2 linked regions of the Homo sapiens genome follow. The protein of the gene in region 1 binds, or shares a complex with, the protein of each later gene. Each region holds a gene or a part of one and is shown in the gene's direction. Other genes may lie near its edges. The genes, in order: TFDP2 and LIN54.

What was found.
Region 2: TFDP2 (region 1) and LIN54 share a complex: the UniProt entries of both Homo sapiens proteins name them as parts of the DREAM complex.

The regions. Positions count from the first base shown.
Region 1 is NC_000003.12:141,949,863-141,958,789, reverse strand, and holds part of TFDP2 (transcription factor Dp-2), read left to right. Parts: intron 1-5,773; coding exon 5,774-5,879; intron 5,880-6,093; coding exon 6,094-6,277; 3' UTR 6,278-8,927. UniProt on the Homo sapiens protein: Can stimulate E2F-dependent transcription.
Region 2 is NC_000004.12:82,978,652-82,987,578, reverse strand, and holds part of LIN54 (protein lin-54 homolog), read left to right. Parts: intron 1-2,702; 5' UTR 2,703-2,734; coding exon 2,735-3,418; intron 3,419-8,572; coding exon 8,573-8,696; intron 8,697-8,927. UniProt on the Homo sapiens protein: Component of the DREAM complex, a multiprotein complex that can both act as a transcription activator or repressor depending on the context. In G0 phase, the complex binds to more than 800 promoters and is required for repression of E2F target genes.

The DNA.
Region 1 (8,927 bases):
TTTGTGTACGCTGCTCCTCTTTACAGTAAAACTTCTCAAGTTGACCATATTTACTGTTCCTTCTTCCTCTTTCCCCAGTCTTAAATTGTTCTTATTAAATACTGAGTAGATACAAAGGTTGTTTACGTCTGTAGACTCTGAAGGGTCACAGTACAGTAGACCCCCATGAATCCAGCACCCAGCTGAGGAAAGCACATTACTGTTCCAGTCCACTGCATGCCCCTGCCCCAGGCTCTGTGCCCTTTCCCACCCCTCAAATATAACCATTCTCTTACATTTCATTGTCATTCACTTGCATTTCTTTAGAGATAAACCAAAATGGTAAACTGGAAATAATGTATTATTTAGTTTTGCCTACTTCTGGCCTCTATATAAGTGAAGTCATAGTAATATACTCTTTGGTGATTTGATTTTTTTTCACTCGATATTATGTTCTTTAGAGTCATCCATGTGATTTAATATAGATATAATTCATACATTCTTACTCCTGTGTAAAATTCCATTATATGAATACATCACAGCTTATCTGTTTATTTTACTGAAAATAAACTGTTTGTTTCCGATTGCTTGATGTTAAAATACAGTGCTGCTTTGAACATTCCTATACATGTATCCCAGTGACCACATGCAAACGTACAGATTGAACTTGTTAGGTCAGAGTTGGGTACATCTTCAGCTTTACTAGATGATACCAAAAATTTTCAATTTGATTTTACCAAATTACACGTTCCCCAGCAGAGTAGAAGTGTTCTATTTTCCTAATCAGGTGGGTCTGAAATGATACCATTGTAGCTTTTCTAAATTGAGATTGAATTCACATGCCATAAAATACACCATTTAAAAATGTCAGTTCAGTGATGTTTTGGTATATTCACAAGGTTGCTAATCATCACCACTATCTGATTCCAGAATATTTTAATTTAAAAACCCAAAAAGAAACCCAAACCCATTAACAGTCTCTATTCCCCCATTCTCCCTCAGCCCCTGGCAACCACTAATCTACTTTGTGTCACTATGGATTTGCCTATTCTAGAAAGACGCTTTATGTGAATGGAACCCTACAGCATGGGGCATTTTGTGGATAGCTTCTTTCACTTAGTGTAGTGTTTCAAGGTTCGTTCATGTTGTAGCACCATCAGTATTTCATTCCTCTTTATTGCCAAATACTATTCCATTGTATGGATGGACCACATTTTGTTTATCCATTCATCAGTTGGTAGATATTTGGACTGTTTCCACTTTTTGGCTATCTCGAATGATGCTGCTGTTAACATTCTTATAAAAGTTTATGTGTAAACATATGTTTTTATCTCTAAAAACATATACCTACGAGTGAAATTGCTGGGTCATATGGTAACTCTGTGTTTAACATTTTAAGGAAATACCAAACTGTTTTCCAAAGCTCCTGTACCATTTACAGTCCAACCAGTGGATAAGTGTTCCAATTTCTCCACATCCTTACTTACTTATTTAGAGACGGAGTCTCACTCTGTCGCCCAAGCTGGAGTGCGGTGACGTAATTTGGCTCACTGCAACCTCCACCTCCCAGGTTCAAGTGATTCTCCTGCCTCAGCCTCCTGAGTAGCTGGGATTACAGGCACCTTGCCGCTATGCCCGGTTAGTTTTGGTATTTTTAGTAGAGACAGGATTTCACCATGTTGGCCAGGCTGATCTGGAACTCTTGGCCTGAATTCACCTGCCTCAGCCTCCCAAAGTGTTGGGATTATACATGTGAGCCACCGTGCCTGCCCTCCATATCCTTTTCTACACTTGTCACTATACATCTTTTGAATTATAGCCATCCTCACAGAAGTGAAGTGATATCTCGCTGTGATTTTTGTGGGGGGGGTGGGGCAGGGTGGTGGTGGAGGGGAGAGAGTCTTGCTCTCCAGGCTGGAGTGCAGTGGCGCAATCTCTGCTCACTGCAGCCTCGAACTCATGGGCTCAAACGATCCACCCACCTCAGCCTCCTGAGTAGCTGGGACCACAGATGTGTGCCACCATGCCCGGTTAAATCTTTTTTTTTTTTTTGATATGTTTGGTAGAGATGGGGTTTTGCCATGTTGTCCAGGCTAGTCTCAAAGTTCTGAGCTCAAGCGATCCACCTGCCTTGGCTCCCACTGTGATTTTGATTTGCATTTCCATAATGACTTCTGATGTTGAGCATCTTTTCATGTGTTTATTGACTATTTGTATGTCTTCCTCAGAAATATGTCTATTCACATTGACTTTTTTTTTGAGATGGAGTCTCTCTCTGTTACCCAGGCTGGAGTGCAATGGTGCAGTCTCAGCTCACTGCAAGCTCCACCTCCCGGGTTCAGGCGATTCTCCTGTCTCAGCCTCCCAAGTAGCTGGAATTACAGGCGCCCACCACCACGCCCAGCTAATTTTTGTATTTTTAGTAGAGACAGGGTTTCACCACGTTGGCCAGGCTGGTCTCGAACTCCTGACCTCAGGTGATCCACCCGCTTCGGCCTCCCACAGTCCATCCTTTGCTCATTTTTAAGTAGAGTTACTTGTCTTTTTATAGAGTTGTAAAGTTATACTGAGTATACTTGAAAACAGAAGCACTATGTTTTACATGTCCTATAATTAAGATTTTTTTCACTAATTTAGAAATCTTCCTGATTTTCCTAATTCCTGAAAATATTACATATTTTGTAGATACAATTTGACTATATAGGTTGGGTGCGGTGGCTTACGCCTGTGATCCCAGCACTTTGGGAGGCTGAGGCAGGCATATCACTTGAGGTTAGGAGTTCAAGACCAGGCTGACCAACATGGCAAAACCCCATCTCTACTAAAAATACAAAAATTAGCCAGGCATGGTGACACATGCCTGTAATTCCAGTTATTTGAGAGGCTGGGGCAGGAAAATCACTTGAACCTGGGAGGCAGAGGTTGCAGTGAACGGAGATTGCACCACTGCACTCCAGCCTGGGCAACAGAGCGAGACTCTGTCTTTTAAAAAAAGAAATGAATATATAAGCAGTGTTTTTGCCTTTGCTTTCTTTTGTTTATTTTATTTGTAAGTATAACCATCTAGAATTTCACATCGCTTTTTAAAGGCATTTTAATACTAGGTCTAAGATACATTAAATCCAATGTAAGCAAAAAGGTAGCTTTAATTTTGTTTTATTCTATGATTTGGTCCTTTGCTCACAACAGAAGAGTTTGTTGGCTGAGATTTGGTTTCTGTTTTAGTTCTTCGGTTGGCACCATTCATCCCCTGCAAGGGCCCCCCGCCTCTCCTTGCCCCTCAGCCCACCTGTTCCGTCTCCCCACCCAGCTTTCCTCTCTCCACGCTCTCCAGCCTGGGTCCTGCTGTGTCATTGGAAGGCCAGCAGAATCTGAATAAAGGGCTTACTCAATAAATCACCAGAACTTTATTTTAGCTTACTCCCAGTGAAAAGGCTCAGGGCGATTAGGCAGGCTCTGTGGTTTTGATCTCTTCGTGACCTCATTTGCAGACTGGGATACAGACTTTCTGGTTAGTTCAAAGGAAGAAACATGTGCCTCTCGTGTGTAAAGGGGCAGAATGGCCTGGGTGGGAGTGTGAGAACCATTGTGTGGATCCTGTGATAATAGGAAAGAAATGTAGGCTTTTCCAATTCATTGTAAAAAGAGAATGTAATGTGTTATGCTCACAAACAAGTAAATAGCTGTGTTCTGACAGAAGGTTTCTATAGTTCTATATACTAATTAATATTCAGCACAAGATTCTGGCTTTAATTTTATTTTCTTGTACAGACTTGTCGTTATTTAATGTATTTAAAGTCTGCTATTCTTCTTAGACTTGAAGTCTCTTTTTTTTCCCAGCTGTCTCAAAGAAAAAGGTTCATAAGACGGTTCTAAAATTAGCATAGTCATTTAGTTTACTTTTTTCCTACGTGGGAATGGCCTCTTGTTTGGATACCAGAGTTTCCAATCTAAATCATATAGTTTCATTTTTTTGTATAGTAATTGCAAAAAGATTTTGATTCAATTAAATCATAGCTCATTTTGGCAGATTACATTTTCTGAGTATGTGTTTGGGCTTATAGAATTTCTTTTTAGGAATTACTTTTAATGTATCTACCACTTATTTTGTAAAGTGGCAGCTGACAGAGACTATACTCATTCATTCAGTAACTTTTTTGTTTTTTTGTTTTTTTTTGTTTTTTTTGAGACAGTCACTCAGGCTGGAGTGCAGTGGCACGATCTCAGCTCACTGCAACCTCCGCCTCCTGGGTTCAAGTGATTCTCCTGCCTCAGTCTCTCTAGTAGCTGGGATTACAGGCATGTATCACCATGCCTGGCTAATTTTTGTATTTTTAATAGAGATGGGGCTTTGCTATATTTGCCAGGCTGGTCTCGAACTCCTGAGCTCAATCTGCCCGCCTTGGCCTCCCAAAGTGCTGGGATTACAGGCATGAGCCACCGCGCCCCGCCACATTTAGATCTTACATGTTCCAGTTACTGCCTTCTTTGAGCTAACACTGTAGATGGGAAGATAAAAAGTATTAAACCAGTAAAATTACAATAAGAATTGATCAGTGTTGTCATAGGATAAATGTGGTATATGTATAGAAAAGAAGATGGCAAGGAGATATCCAAAATATTTTCTTTTCTTTTTTTCTTTTATTTTTTGAGATGGAGTTTCGCTCTTGTTGCCCAGGCTGGAGTGCAGTGGTGCAATCTCAGCTCACTGCAACCTCCGCCTCCCGGGTTCAAGTGATTCTCCTGCCTCAGCCTCCCGAGTAGCTAGGATTACAGGCATGCACCACAACGCCCAGCTAATTTTGTATTTTTAATAGAGATGGGGTTTCTCCATGTTGGACAGAACTCCCAACTTCAGGTGATCCGCCCTCCTTGGCCTCCCAAAATGCTGGGATTATAGGCGTGAGCCACCGTGCTCAGCCCAAACTATTTTCTGTAGACTAAAACAGTAACGTCTGTGTCTGCCTCATTAAAAACATGACTGCATGTGACCTTTTTAAAATAAGAGCTAGTTGTGGGGTGGGGGGAGGGGGGAGGGATAGCATTAGGAGATATACCTAATGCTAAATGACGAGTTAATCGGTGCAGCACACCAGCATGGCACATGTATACATATGTAACTAACCTGCACATTGTGCACATGTACCCTAAAACTTAAAGTATAATAATAATAAAAAAAATAAAATAAGAGCTAGTTTGAATTAGAAAGCAACAGACACCAGGAAAAATCTTGTCAGGAAAAAGAATAGATATTTGATGAGTAGCAGCATTGAGTTCACCAGCAGCAGGCACCTGAAAAGACATTGCGGCGGGGGTTTTGGCCAAAACATGTCTGTCTGCCCTCTAAGCAGGGTGGCCTTCTTACCTCATGTATTTCTGATTTGATTTTCTCTTTTCCCACTTCTGGCTTTGGCTCTCAACACCACAGTCCAGGTCTTTTGTGCTGAGGGCAGAAGGCATTGAGGGTGGTACACTGGGATGTATCCCATGGGCTGTGCTCTGGAGGGCTTATCTAAGAAAAAGAGTAAGAAAGTGCCTTTGAGTGTTTTCATTTGAATACCTTCTCTCCGTAAGCTGCCTTCCCGTATTTTTTTTTTCCTGCTCTTATGTTCTAGAAATTTTTTTTTCTTCCAAGAAGATGAAGAAACCTGGGTTCTTGTCACAGCAAGAGAATTGTCTAGCTGTCATGAAGAATAAGCTTAGCTCTTGCTTTTCTGTGCTTTCCTCAGACTGTAACAACAGCAGCCACAGAACTTGCAGGACCGACATTTTTTGTTCTCATTTTTTCCTTTAGATATCTCCACAGGACCTTCTTGGTTAAATCAGGGACTACTTCTGAACTCTACCCAATCAGTTTCAAATTTAGACCTGACCACTGGTGCCACCTTACCCCAGTCAAGGTACGTATTTTTTTCAGGGTTAGAAAGGCAAACCCCAGAGCCCTGACTGTCTGTGTAGGGGTGAGCCGGGGTCATGTTACTGCCAGCACAGGTCCTGCTGAGCAGGTTTGTGGCAGATCTCACCAATGGCACCTCCTTCCTGTTTTTATTCCTATGTTTTACAAAACTGTTTATACCACATTAATGAGCCTGTGTGTTTTTAATTGTTTGCTAGTGTAAACCAAGGGTTATGCTTGGATGCAGAAGTGGCCTTAGCAACTGGGCAGTTCCTGGCCCCAAACAGTCACCAGTCCAGCAGTGCGGCCTCTCACTGCTCCGAGTCCCGAGGCGAGACCCCCTGTTCGTTCAATGATGAAGATGAGGAAGATGATGAGGAGGATTCCTCCTCCCCAGAATAAAGACAAGAGAAAGCCTACGTTTCAATATGTGATGCTCATGTGTGTTTGTAGTGTGAGCTCTTGTTTTTGAAATGATTGCTTCAGTCTTTGCCTTTGTTTGCACTGTGTGTTCAGTGAAAACTAGAGAAACACAATAAGCAAATCACATGAAGGCTGAGATGATTGAGATGAAAGTTAACATAGTGTGAATGAAAGTCTGGCCAACAGAGCAGTAGATGATATAACAAAGAAAGCATGCTTTCTGAGGAGATAGTGGGGATAATCCCTGAAGAGTTGGCAGTGTGAGTGCAACTCATTTATCTTCTGTGAGGTGGGATTTTTGTGTTCCTCACACCCATGTAATTATTCTTAGAATTGAGATTGCTACACGGAGCAGTCCTTGACGATCGTGTTTCTGACGTTTCTCTTCCTTGCCTGGACTGCCTTTGACAAGGCAGAAATGAACATGAAAAGTCCCCAGGAGAGGGGAGCTGTGTAGTGAGGGATACTGAGGGCAGTCCTGTGGCTGAGGGGCACAGATTGAACTGCTGAACTAGTTGGAGGTCTAGATGAGGTGCTTTACGCATCAGCTGCCTTAGACAGCTTCTAGAAAGGAGCGAGCGCTACTTCTTAAGTACTTAAGTGACATTTAGATAATTTATAGTAAAACTGAAATTATTATTAGCCAATGCATTGGTGCATAGAATTTACTAGGGCTACTTCTGGAAGCCAAAATAGAATAGCATTTCCATGTGCATTAAATACTTTGCCAGCACTGCCTTTGCCAGCATCCTAAATCTGGAGTTTTACAAAGAAGGAAACTGTATCTTTAGGTTAATCAAAGCTATGCATTTCATATAGCTTTTTCATTTAAAACAAGACAAAGAAACAAATTCCTATGACCAAATTGCTTGCCTACAGTTCCCTGCAGTAATTGTATGATCTCACCCAGTGTGCAATTTGTGAAAATGAACCAAATGTCATTACTTTTGTCTTAAAGAAAAGTCTATTTCAAGAATATGAACAGCAGTGTTTCCTTGTACATGTCACCTTTTTTCACATTTTCATTAATCAGAATGACCTTATTGAGCCTACTCCTGGGGTCAATTGCATTTCAAACTAATCCAATATTTAGTGTTTCACAGAAACACTAGAAAACGTTGAACACTCCTACTGCCTGGATATATGGTAGTGCAGTTATGTTGTTTATGGCTCAAGATGTCATTAGAAATACTGCAGTGGTGTATTCACAGCTGCTCCTTCTCTGAATGAAAGAGTGTAGGGACACCTGCCACCATGGCCAGACCCTGACTGAATTTCACATTAAGGCTTTGGAAAGGAGCAAATAATAATGGGAGAATTAACTCCAAAACTTTGACCTGAATCATGTGGATTTGTCCCAAGATTATGCTAGATGCACCAAGCATGGCCCAAATTGGTTCTTTTTTAAATCCCATGGGGGAAGTGCAGGCTCCTTCCTGTGGTGCCTCTTTATAGCCTCACCACCATGCTAACACTGAGCATGGTGAGGAGGAGGAAGCTTTGGCTAGCTAAACATGTTTAATAAGGCCATAAAAACTGAGAAAGAAAAACATTCAACTTTAGCTGAAGCTCCTTTGATACAAAAGTTTCATTCTGTCAGAAATAAGCCATAGTACAGACTCAGAGATAGAGGCAGTTTCTAGAGAACTCGGTCTTATCGTGGGTTCTGGAGCACACCTCTCAGACCAGTCAGGAACACTGGGGAGGTGACAGCAGGTCCCCAGGGGCCTGCAGGGAATCTTTCAGCTGCACGGATTGGGATTTCCCTCCAAACCAAACTGTCCTTTAAGGGGCAGCCTCCTCTTTTACTAACTCCACCCTTTCTCATCTCTGGGACCCAGCAGGGACCTGGAGAGGCCAACAGCCACTGCTACCTTTGTAGTCTTCAAAATATTGAACTGCAGGTCCCAAGATGCATTTCAGGATTTAAGACAGGTGCACTAATGATAACCATTCCTTCACCAAGTAGCAACATTCTTGCCAGAGTTCTTGGGAAACCTGTTTTTTTCTCTACTCTCCATCTCTGCTGCTCTCATGCTTTAAATTGATAAAATATGGGCTCAAAAAAAGAAAGCCGCCAAAGACTCTTATCCTTATTGGTGCCCCATCATTGGCCACCCCAGCCATAGGTGTGTGCTGTTGGTGGGAAATGGTCTCCTTCCTCAGCGTTGTGTTTGGGTTACTGGTGAGGCCAGCTCACAGAGTGACATCATGGTCACCAGTACATGTCGCTGGAGTAAAATCTTGCCTTTAGAAACTAGGTTGAGCTGTTCAGAAAGGTCAATTCTCTTCTGTATTCCCCCTCAACATTTATCTGGGTCTAAAGCTCAGCACTGAGTCACAATTTCACACAAGATCAAAGTGAGGCAGTGTTAGGAAACCATGGGCTGGGTGCAGTGCCTCTCGCCTGTAATCGTAGCACTTTGGGAGGCCGAGGCGGGCACATTGCTTGAGCTCAGGAGTTCAAGACCAGCCTGGGCAACATGACAAAACCCTGTCTCTACAAAAATACAAAAATTAGCTGGGTGTGGTGGGGCATGCCTGTAGTCCTGGCTACTCAAGAGGCTGAGGTGGGAGGATTGCTTGAGCGCAGGAGGCGGAGGTTGTAGAGCCAAGATCACACCACTGC
Region 2 (8,927 bases), on another chromosome or scaffold:
CACAGAGAGGGGAACAACACACATTATGTTCTGGTGGGGGGTTGGGGTCAAGGGGAGGGAACTTAGAGGTGGGGTCAACAGGTGTAGCAAACCACCATGGCACACGTATACCTGTGTAACAAACCTGCATGTTCTGCACATGTATCCCGTTTGTTTTTTGTTTTTTGTTTTTTTCTTAGAAAAGTAGACTTATTTTTTCCCTGTTTTAAAACACCAATGGCAACATTTAAGGGAGTATAATTTTGGGATTAAGGTTATTAACTGTGGCATCTTTTTAAAAAAATTTTTGAGACAAAGTCTCACTCTGTTGCCCAGGCTGGAGTGCAGTGGCACGATCTTGGCTCACTGCAACCTCCGCCTCCCGGCTTCAAGCGATTATTGTGCTTCAGCCTTCTGAGTAGCTGGAATTACAAGCACCCACCACCACGCCTAGCTAATTTTTGTATTTTTAGTAGAGATGGGGTTTTGCCATGTTGGCCAGGCTGGTCTCGAACACCTGACCTCAGGTGATCTGCCCACCTCGGCCTCCCAAAGTGCTGGGATTACAGGTAAGAGCCAGTGTGCCCAGCCAAGATAATTAACTGTGGCATATTAAAAACCTGAGCTGGAGTCCTGGCTCTACCATTTACTAGCTATGTGACCTTAGGCAAATTAACCTTTCTAAATGGCCTCATCTATAAAACAGGGATAATGATGATTCCCATTTCTGAGTTGTTGTGAGGATAAATTAAATTACGTCATCAGTGTTGTAAGCACTCAATAATGATGGTTTATTTTGGTGGTAGTAGTATTTGCCAATGCTAATAGTTGTAATTTGCTACTTGTGTGTTAATTTTGGATGGGTGTTGTATCTTTTTTTTTTTTTTTTTTTTTTTTGAGATGGGGTCTCGCTCTGTCGCCCGGCTCAAGTGCAGTGGCACGATCTCGGCTCATTGCAACCTCTGCCTCCCAGGTTCAAGTGATTCTTCTGCCTCAGCCTCCTGAGTAGCTGGGACTATAGGTGCATGCCACCATGCCCAGCTAATTTTTGTATTTTTAGTTGAGACGGGGTTTCACCATGTTGGCCAGGATCGTCTCCATCTCTTGACCTTGTGATCTGCCTACCTCGTGATCTGCCAGAATGCCCAGCCGGGGTGGTGTATTTTTATATTTAAAAAAAGGGGGCCGGGCATGGTGGCTCACACCTATAATCCCAGCACTTTGGGAGGCCAGCGTGGGCAGATCACCTGAGGTTGGGAGTTTGAGACCAGCCTGACCAACATGGAGAAACCTTGTCTCTACTAAAAATACAAAAAATTAGCTGGGCGTGGTGGCACATGCCTGTAATCCCAGCTACTTGGGAGGCTGAGGCAGGAGAATCGCTTGAACCTGGGAGGTGGAGGTTGCGGTGAGCCGAGATTGCGCCACTGCACTCCAGCCTGGGTAACAAGAGCGAGACTCTGTCTCAAAAACGAAAAGGAAGAGAAGAAAGTTGCTGATTTGGTTCCTATGGATCTTTGATGTTCTCTGGGCAAATAACTCACTGCTATTTAGTCTGTCATAAACATGATGTGCTGTCTTTTATACATGAAGATAATAAAATTGATTCCTTTATTGGAAGTTCTACAGACCTTTGGCTAAAAGTACCACAGCTCAAAGTTTTTCGTAATCTGCTTTATGATTATTACTTTTTTTCTTCATGGGGATTGGCTGTACATCTCTTAAATGGTTCTTTTTGACACTTTAAATGGCGGAGGATGGCCAGGCACGGTGGCTCACGCCTGTAATCCCAGTACTTTGGGAGGCCGAGGCAGGTGGATCACCCGAGGTTAGGAGTTCGAGACCAGCCTGGCCAACATGGCAAAACCCTGTCTCTACTAAAAGTACAAAAATTAGCCCGGCTTGGTGGCAGGCGCCTGTAATTCCAGCTACTCAGGAGGCTGAGGCAGGAGAATTGCTTGAACCCAGGAAGCGGAGGTTGCAGTGAGCTGAGATTGTGCCACTGCACTTCAGCCTTGGCAACAGAGTGAGACTCCGTCTCAATAATTAATTAATTAAGTAAGTAAGTAAATGGCCAAGGAGGGTTTGAGAATCTTCTTTCCAAATAAAAATTTCCCTGGTATGAAGCTAGTTGGTCAAAGTTGTACCACAAATGCTATTTGATCTGCAATTGCTGAGATGTATTACTCTAGAAACTCCTTTAACTTTAATTTGGGTATTTAATGGATTTTTAAAATGGGATAGTACACTCATATTAGGACGTAGCTCATTGGAGATTTGAATGTATTTTACAATATGTTAATATTTAAATCTTTATTTCCTTGTGTGAATCAGCAGTTTTCAAGTCTGTCAATGAGAGGAAAAAAATCTGGGTAGAAATAAGATCAGATACATCAAAGATTACAAATTTTATTAGAGGGCGTTGGAAAGGAGTTTCATGTGATTATGTGACTTAGTGTTGCCTGAGTGCAAGATACTTGTGGATTGAGACGAGAGTAAGAATGTTTGCTTCTAGTTTTGTGTTCCCATATGACTTATATTATAGATTCTTGCAGGTTGAGGATGTGTTAACATGATTTAACCCAGATAAGCTTCAGGAATATTCTTCATTCAATTATATATCAATTTAAAAATTGTCATTTTGCCATTTGCATTTTTTTTGAATTTTTTTCTTACATCTTTTGAAACCTAGTAACTTGTTCATTTTTCAACTTTTATTACAGTGCCTGATCAACTTTCTAGCGGGAGAACGATCATGGAGGTGGTGCCAGCTGAGGTGAATAGTTTGCTTCCAGAGGAAATAATGGACACTGGTATAACTTTAGTGGATGATGATAGTATTGAGGCTGTTATTGTTTCATCCCCAATTCCCATGGAGACAGAACTGGAAGAAATTGTCAACATAAATTCTACTGGTGACTCTACAGCCACGCCCATTTCCACGGAACCAATCACAGTGTACAGTAACCACACTAACCAAGTTGCAGTGAATACCACAATTACTAAAGCAGATTCTAATACCACAGTGAAACCAGCTTTTCCAAGTGGCCTTCAAAAACTTGGTGCTCAGACTCCTGTGACTATATCAGCCAATCAGATTATTTTAAACAAAGTATCACAGACATCTGATCTTAAACTTGGCAATCAGACCCTTAAACCAGATGGACAGAAGTTAATTTTAACAACTTTGGGCAAGTCTGGTTCACCAATTGTTTTAGCACTACCCCATAGCCAACTACCCCAGGCTCAGAAAGTTACAACTCAGGCCCAGTCAGGAGATGCTAAGTTACCACCGCAGCAAATTAAAGTAGTTACCATTGGAGGGAGGCCAGAGGTGAAACCTGTCATTGGTGTCTCAGCATTGACCCCAGGAAGTCAACTGATTAATACTACAACTCAGCCCTCTGTGTTACAGACCCAACAGTTAAAAACAGTACAGGTAAAAGAAAAAAGGGGGCTTACTAATTAAAATGCATGTTTAAAAAAATTTAACTGATTCATAGTTGTGTTTATAGGGTTACTAAATACATAGTTGTTACTGAATTCTTTTGAATGTTGTTTTATGTAATTGTGTGTGTGTGTTTTTAAGTTTGATATGTCTAATGCTTATGAAAATTTTTACCAGATAACTTAGAAAGCAAACTTAATTTTGGTTAAATTCCAAATTAGTATATTTATAGCCTTTTACTAATTTTAAAATGCATTTTATTCTTAGTGGTAGTTTGATTACAAGGATGTTTTGCTGGTATAAATATGCCAGACTTGCTGCTGGGCTATCAAAAAAATCATGTAGACAACATTTTTTTTTTTCAGTTCACAGATGGCCAAAGGCTAGGAGAACTTTGTTGCTCTGAGAAACCCTCAGAGCCAGTAATAGTGCGTGTCAGCCAGCGTGTGCCTTTTATTTGGAGTTTACTGTTCATTGCCATTATTCATGTTTGTACTATGGAAAAGACAGTGACATGTGATGGAAGATAACATACAGGCTTTAGAGTTGTACCAACTGGGCTTGAGTTGCCTCTATCTTATCCTACCAGTTATGGAAAACTTTCGTAGGTTACTTATCTTCTCTGAGTTTTTGACTTTATCTTAAGAATACTTTTTGATCAAGATGAAATGTGTAGTATAATTCTCAAAATATTGAGGATGTTTCATAATGGTACCTATTATTAGTATGAATAGGACCCTAAGAAAGAAGGTTACTGGAATATATATTAAGTGATTTCCAGTTTATCATGCCCAAATAGGCTTTCTTAGGCCACCACTACTCTTGGAAATGCAGTGATCGGCGGGGCGTGGTGGCTTAAGCCTGTAATCCCACCCAGCACTTTGGCAGGCTGAGGTGGGCGGATCACCTGAGGTCAGGAGTTTGAGACTAGCCTGCCCAACATGGTGAAACCTCATCTCTACTAAAAATACAAAAAATTAGCCAGGCATGGTGGCGAGTGCCTATAATCCCAGCTACTCAGGAGGCTGAGACAGGAGAATCGGTTGAACCCGGGAGGCAGAGGTTGCAGTGAGCCGAGATCGCGCCATTGCACTCCAGCCTGGGTGACAAGAGCGAAACTCCATCTCAAAAAAAAAAAAAAAAACAAGAAATGCAGTGATATACTTATGACCAGGAAACAAAAATGTATCCTCTGTTTGAAAGAGTTGTCTTTGAATGCATAGAAATAATAGGAAATGCATAAGAAGGAAGTAGGAAGGTTTTGGGAGACTACACTCAGCTGATATTAGAGTAATGTTTTGGTTACTGTTTTGACAGTAGAATTAGAAACCACTTTTCATGGGCTTTGCATTTAAGAACTTTGTAGAATTTCTTAAATCTTATAATTTGCCTCTGTCCCCTTTGCCATTATTAAACATTTAGTGCTCTTTCTTGTTCATTATTACTTCTCACTTATCTATGACTTCCTTTTACTTCTTATTTTTGCCAAGAATCTCTTGGATGAGATATCTTATCACCATCAAGCATCTTGTCCTCAGTTTTGAAGCTTGTTTTTATTGGTTTACCAAAGTTTATTTGGCTTTGGCAATATGGATCATAATTATGTTCAAAAGAAACTGATGCCAGGTGTGGTGGCTCACGAACCTGTAAGCCCAACACTTTGGGAGGCCAAGGTGGGCAGATTCTGTGAGGCCAGGAGTTCGAGACCAGCCTGGGCAACATAGTGAAACCCTGTTTCTACCAAAAATACAAAAAATTAGCCCAGCATGGTGGCGCACACTTGCGGTCCCAGGTACTCAGGAGGCTGAGGTGAGAGGGTCGCTTGAGCCGGGGAGGTCTAGGCTGCTGTGAGCTGTGGTCGCATCACTGCACCTCAGCCTGGGCTACAGGAAAACCCTGTCTCAAAAAAATAAAAATAAACTAAAAAAGGAAAAGATATCATAAATTAGAATGTCATTTTTTTCATTTATGAGAGCAAGGTATATGTGACATTTCAATGACCAGTGTTGCTTGTATCTATTATTTCTCTACTTTAACTCCCTAAGTAATGACAATAAAAAAAAGACTGGGGTCTAATTCTTATAACTTGTTTTATTGTTACTTTTCTGTTTTGTTTTGTTTTGTTTTTGAGACAGGTCTCTCTGTCACCCAGTCTGGAGTGCAGTGGGTGCTCCACTGCAGCCTTGACCCCCCAAGCTCAAATGCTCCTCCCACGTCAGCCTCCCAAGTAGCTGGGACTACAGATGCAAACCACCACACCTGGCCAATTTTTGTATTTTTTTTGTAGAGATGGGGCTTTGCCATGTAGCCCAGGCTGGTCTCAAACTCCTGGACACAAGCAATCCACCTGCCTTGGCCTCTCAAAAGTGCTGGGATTACAAGCATAAGCCACTGCACCTGGGCTATTGTTAGTTTTCTAAAGCCTGTTTCTATCTAATAAAAAAGAATTCTATTAAAAAAAACAATAAAAAGGAATTAGATTTAGAATTTTTTTTACTTGTACAATCCATTATTTTTAGGCGACTTAAGTCTTTCCATCTCAGAAGTAACCTCAAAGCTCTGAAGCACAAAAGACAAATTAAAAACTATGCATCTATATTTTTTCCTTTTTTGACACCAGAATATTTGGTTTAGTATTACAAAGAGTATATGATTTTCTGGTTTTTTTCCCCCTAGGTAGTTGTCAGTGTTAAGTTTAGTCAGAGTATTGAGACTGTTAGGGTATAGATAGCAGGCAACGGTGGAAGATGGAGGCCATCTTGAAAAATGAAGAAAAGAGGTGACCTTTGAAGCCAGAGGCAGTAACAGAGGTATAATTATATGTAATAACAGATATATAAACACTTTCCCATGTTTCCTGTGCATAGTATATAAGAGTAGTACATAACTAGCAGTCTGGAACAATATAACTCCTTACTAGCTCCTGAATCTATCCAACACAGTGCCAAAAATTACTTGTATATATTATTTGATGACATATTTTACTACCTTATTTGTAAGTTTTTTTTCATGTTTATCTTAAGCTGCTGATTCTATAAACTTGTTAAAGTAATCTTTGATGCTTTGTTTTACTTAATAATTTTGTTCCAGGATACTTTAGAATTCATAGTGCAAAAAAATCATAGTTCCTTAATGGAACCAAAAGTTATTATTTTCAGCACCACTAAAGAAACATAACCACAAGGGCAAGATGAGATTGTTTATTTGAATAATTAATGTGCTTCTGGTTGTACTGTTTATATTTTTTTCTTACTGATAAGTATTCATATACTCATGATTGTGAAAAATCAGTTTAAAATGGGGAAATACTTTAAGCCCATAATTGTTATAGCTAAGGTTATTTATTGCTAATATGGCTTTCTAAGAATATTAATACTTCTACCTCTAGAGATTGTTAATATTATAGATACAATAGATACAATTTTGACTGACTTTAGGGTTTTAAGTCTGTAAACATACTTGAGAAATTTGTATTTCTCTAAATTTCATTAGCTTTCTAGAGTATAATTATAGATTTATTTGAGTATGTTATAGTTTTGCAAGTCGGCCGTTTTTAAATACAATAATGGGTATGTTTTTTTTTAAGTGATTTGTATTTTATATACAGTTGGTTTTTGTCAGTAATGTGCTCTGAGTATAAAAAAGTAATATATTGTAGGTGTAAGATGTGTTATTTAGTTTAATTTATAATTTGAGCACAAAGAGCTAATATTTGTCTAGTTCTGTGATCTATCATAACTTCCGGTGTATTTCTGTTATTCATGTTGGTCATATTTTTTCATTTGAGTCACTATTTCCTATAATAAATAGTTCTTTTACAGTCTCAATTTTCATTGCCAAAAGATATAATTAATATTTAATGTTCTTCACACTCTAAAATTCTTTGATTTTTATCCCAGGTAAATTTCTTCTTTTAACTTTTAGAAGAAGCTGTGTCTTTGTATATGGTGATAATCGCAATATAAAAAATTGGTAACTCTACACTCCTTGACTTGTGGAGAATTATAATTCAGGTCAACAGTGTGCCAATATGTAACTTCAAATTGGAGATGAATTAAATATAGTTTCTCTCTTCAAGGAATTTAAAATATAATAAACAGTTGCTGTAGCCCAGGAGTTTGAGGCTGCAGTGAACTATGAGTGCACCACTGCACTCCAGTCTGGGTGACGAGATGAGACCCAGTATTTTTTTTTTTTTTTTTTTTTTTTTTTGAGACAGAGTCTCACTCACTCTGTCACCCAGGCTGGAGTGCAGTGGTGCAATCTCGACTCCCTGCAACCTCTGCTCCCGGGTTCAAGCAATTCTCCTGCCTCAGCCTCCCGAGTAGCTAAGATTATAGGTGTGCGCCACCACACCCTGCTTATTTTTGTATTTTTGTAGAGACAGGGTTTCACCATGTTGGCCAGGCTGGTCTTGAACTCCTGACCTCAAGTGTCTGCCTGCTTCAGCCTCCCAGAGTGCTGGGATTACAGGCGTGAGCCACTGCGCCTGGCCAGGACCCCATCTTTAAAAGAAGAAAAGTGTAGTACATAATAGTTTAGTAAATAATATTTCAGAGCTGTTGCCCTTATAATAGTTTCTGTTCTACCAAATTTTTCTCTTTTGTACCCTAGGGCTTTAACTTATTTAGTTCTCCCTTAATCTACTCCTGATATTTAGATCTAAAGTTGAAAATCTAGTCATAAGCCTACCTTTAATGTGTATTTATTTATATTTTGCATCCAAGGGCCAATGTAATTGTGTATATAGGTGGCTTTGTCATTCGCACTATACTTTCTTTACTTACTCTTTTTATTATTGAGTAATTTGTTATTTTGAACAAGAATATTACTGTGCCACAGTTTTATTTTTTCATTAAGCATTATTATTAATTTTGTTTTCATCATATGCATATATCCAAGACATGAAAATAAGGAATTGTAATAAAATGCAAAGGTATTATTATATATGGGATTAAGGATATAATAATATTAATATTTTGATGAATGTCTGCATTTTAAATGTTCTTAACATTAACACACAGATATATTCTGTTAAGTGAGCTGGTTTTACATGTGCTACTTTGTGTGAATCTTTGGTATAATTTTGATTTAATAGGCATTTTATAGAAACAGATGGTCTTCATAGTTATTTATATGTTTCAGATTGCTAAGAAGCCTCGAACGCCAACCTCTGGTCCAGTAATCACGAAGCTGATCTTTGCAAAACCAATTAATAGTAAAGCAGTTACAGGACAGACAACTCAAGTTTCACCACCAGTTATTGCAGGTTATATTTCTTTATAGTTTATTAAGCTAAATATTTATCTTCCTTTTAGATTTAAAAAGGCTGTTCTGCCAACTTAAAATGTTTTAGTGTAACAAATATAGCTTATTATTATAAACCAGACTAGTTAATAAGAAGTGTTTGCTTCAAGCAAAATGCCTCATCTGAAAATCAGTTCATTACTTTAGTCTCCTTAGTTTTTGGTAGAAATTTACCATGATACTAGCAAAGTCT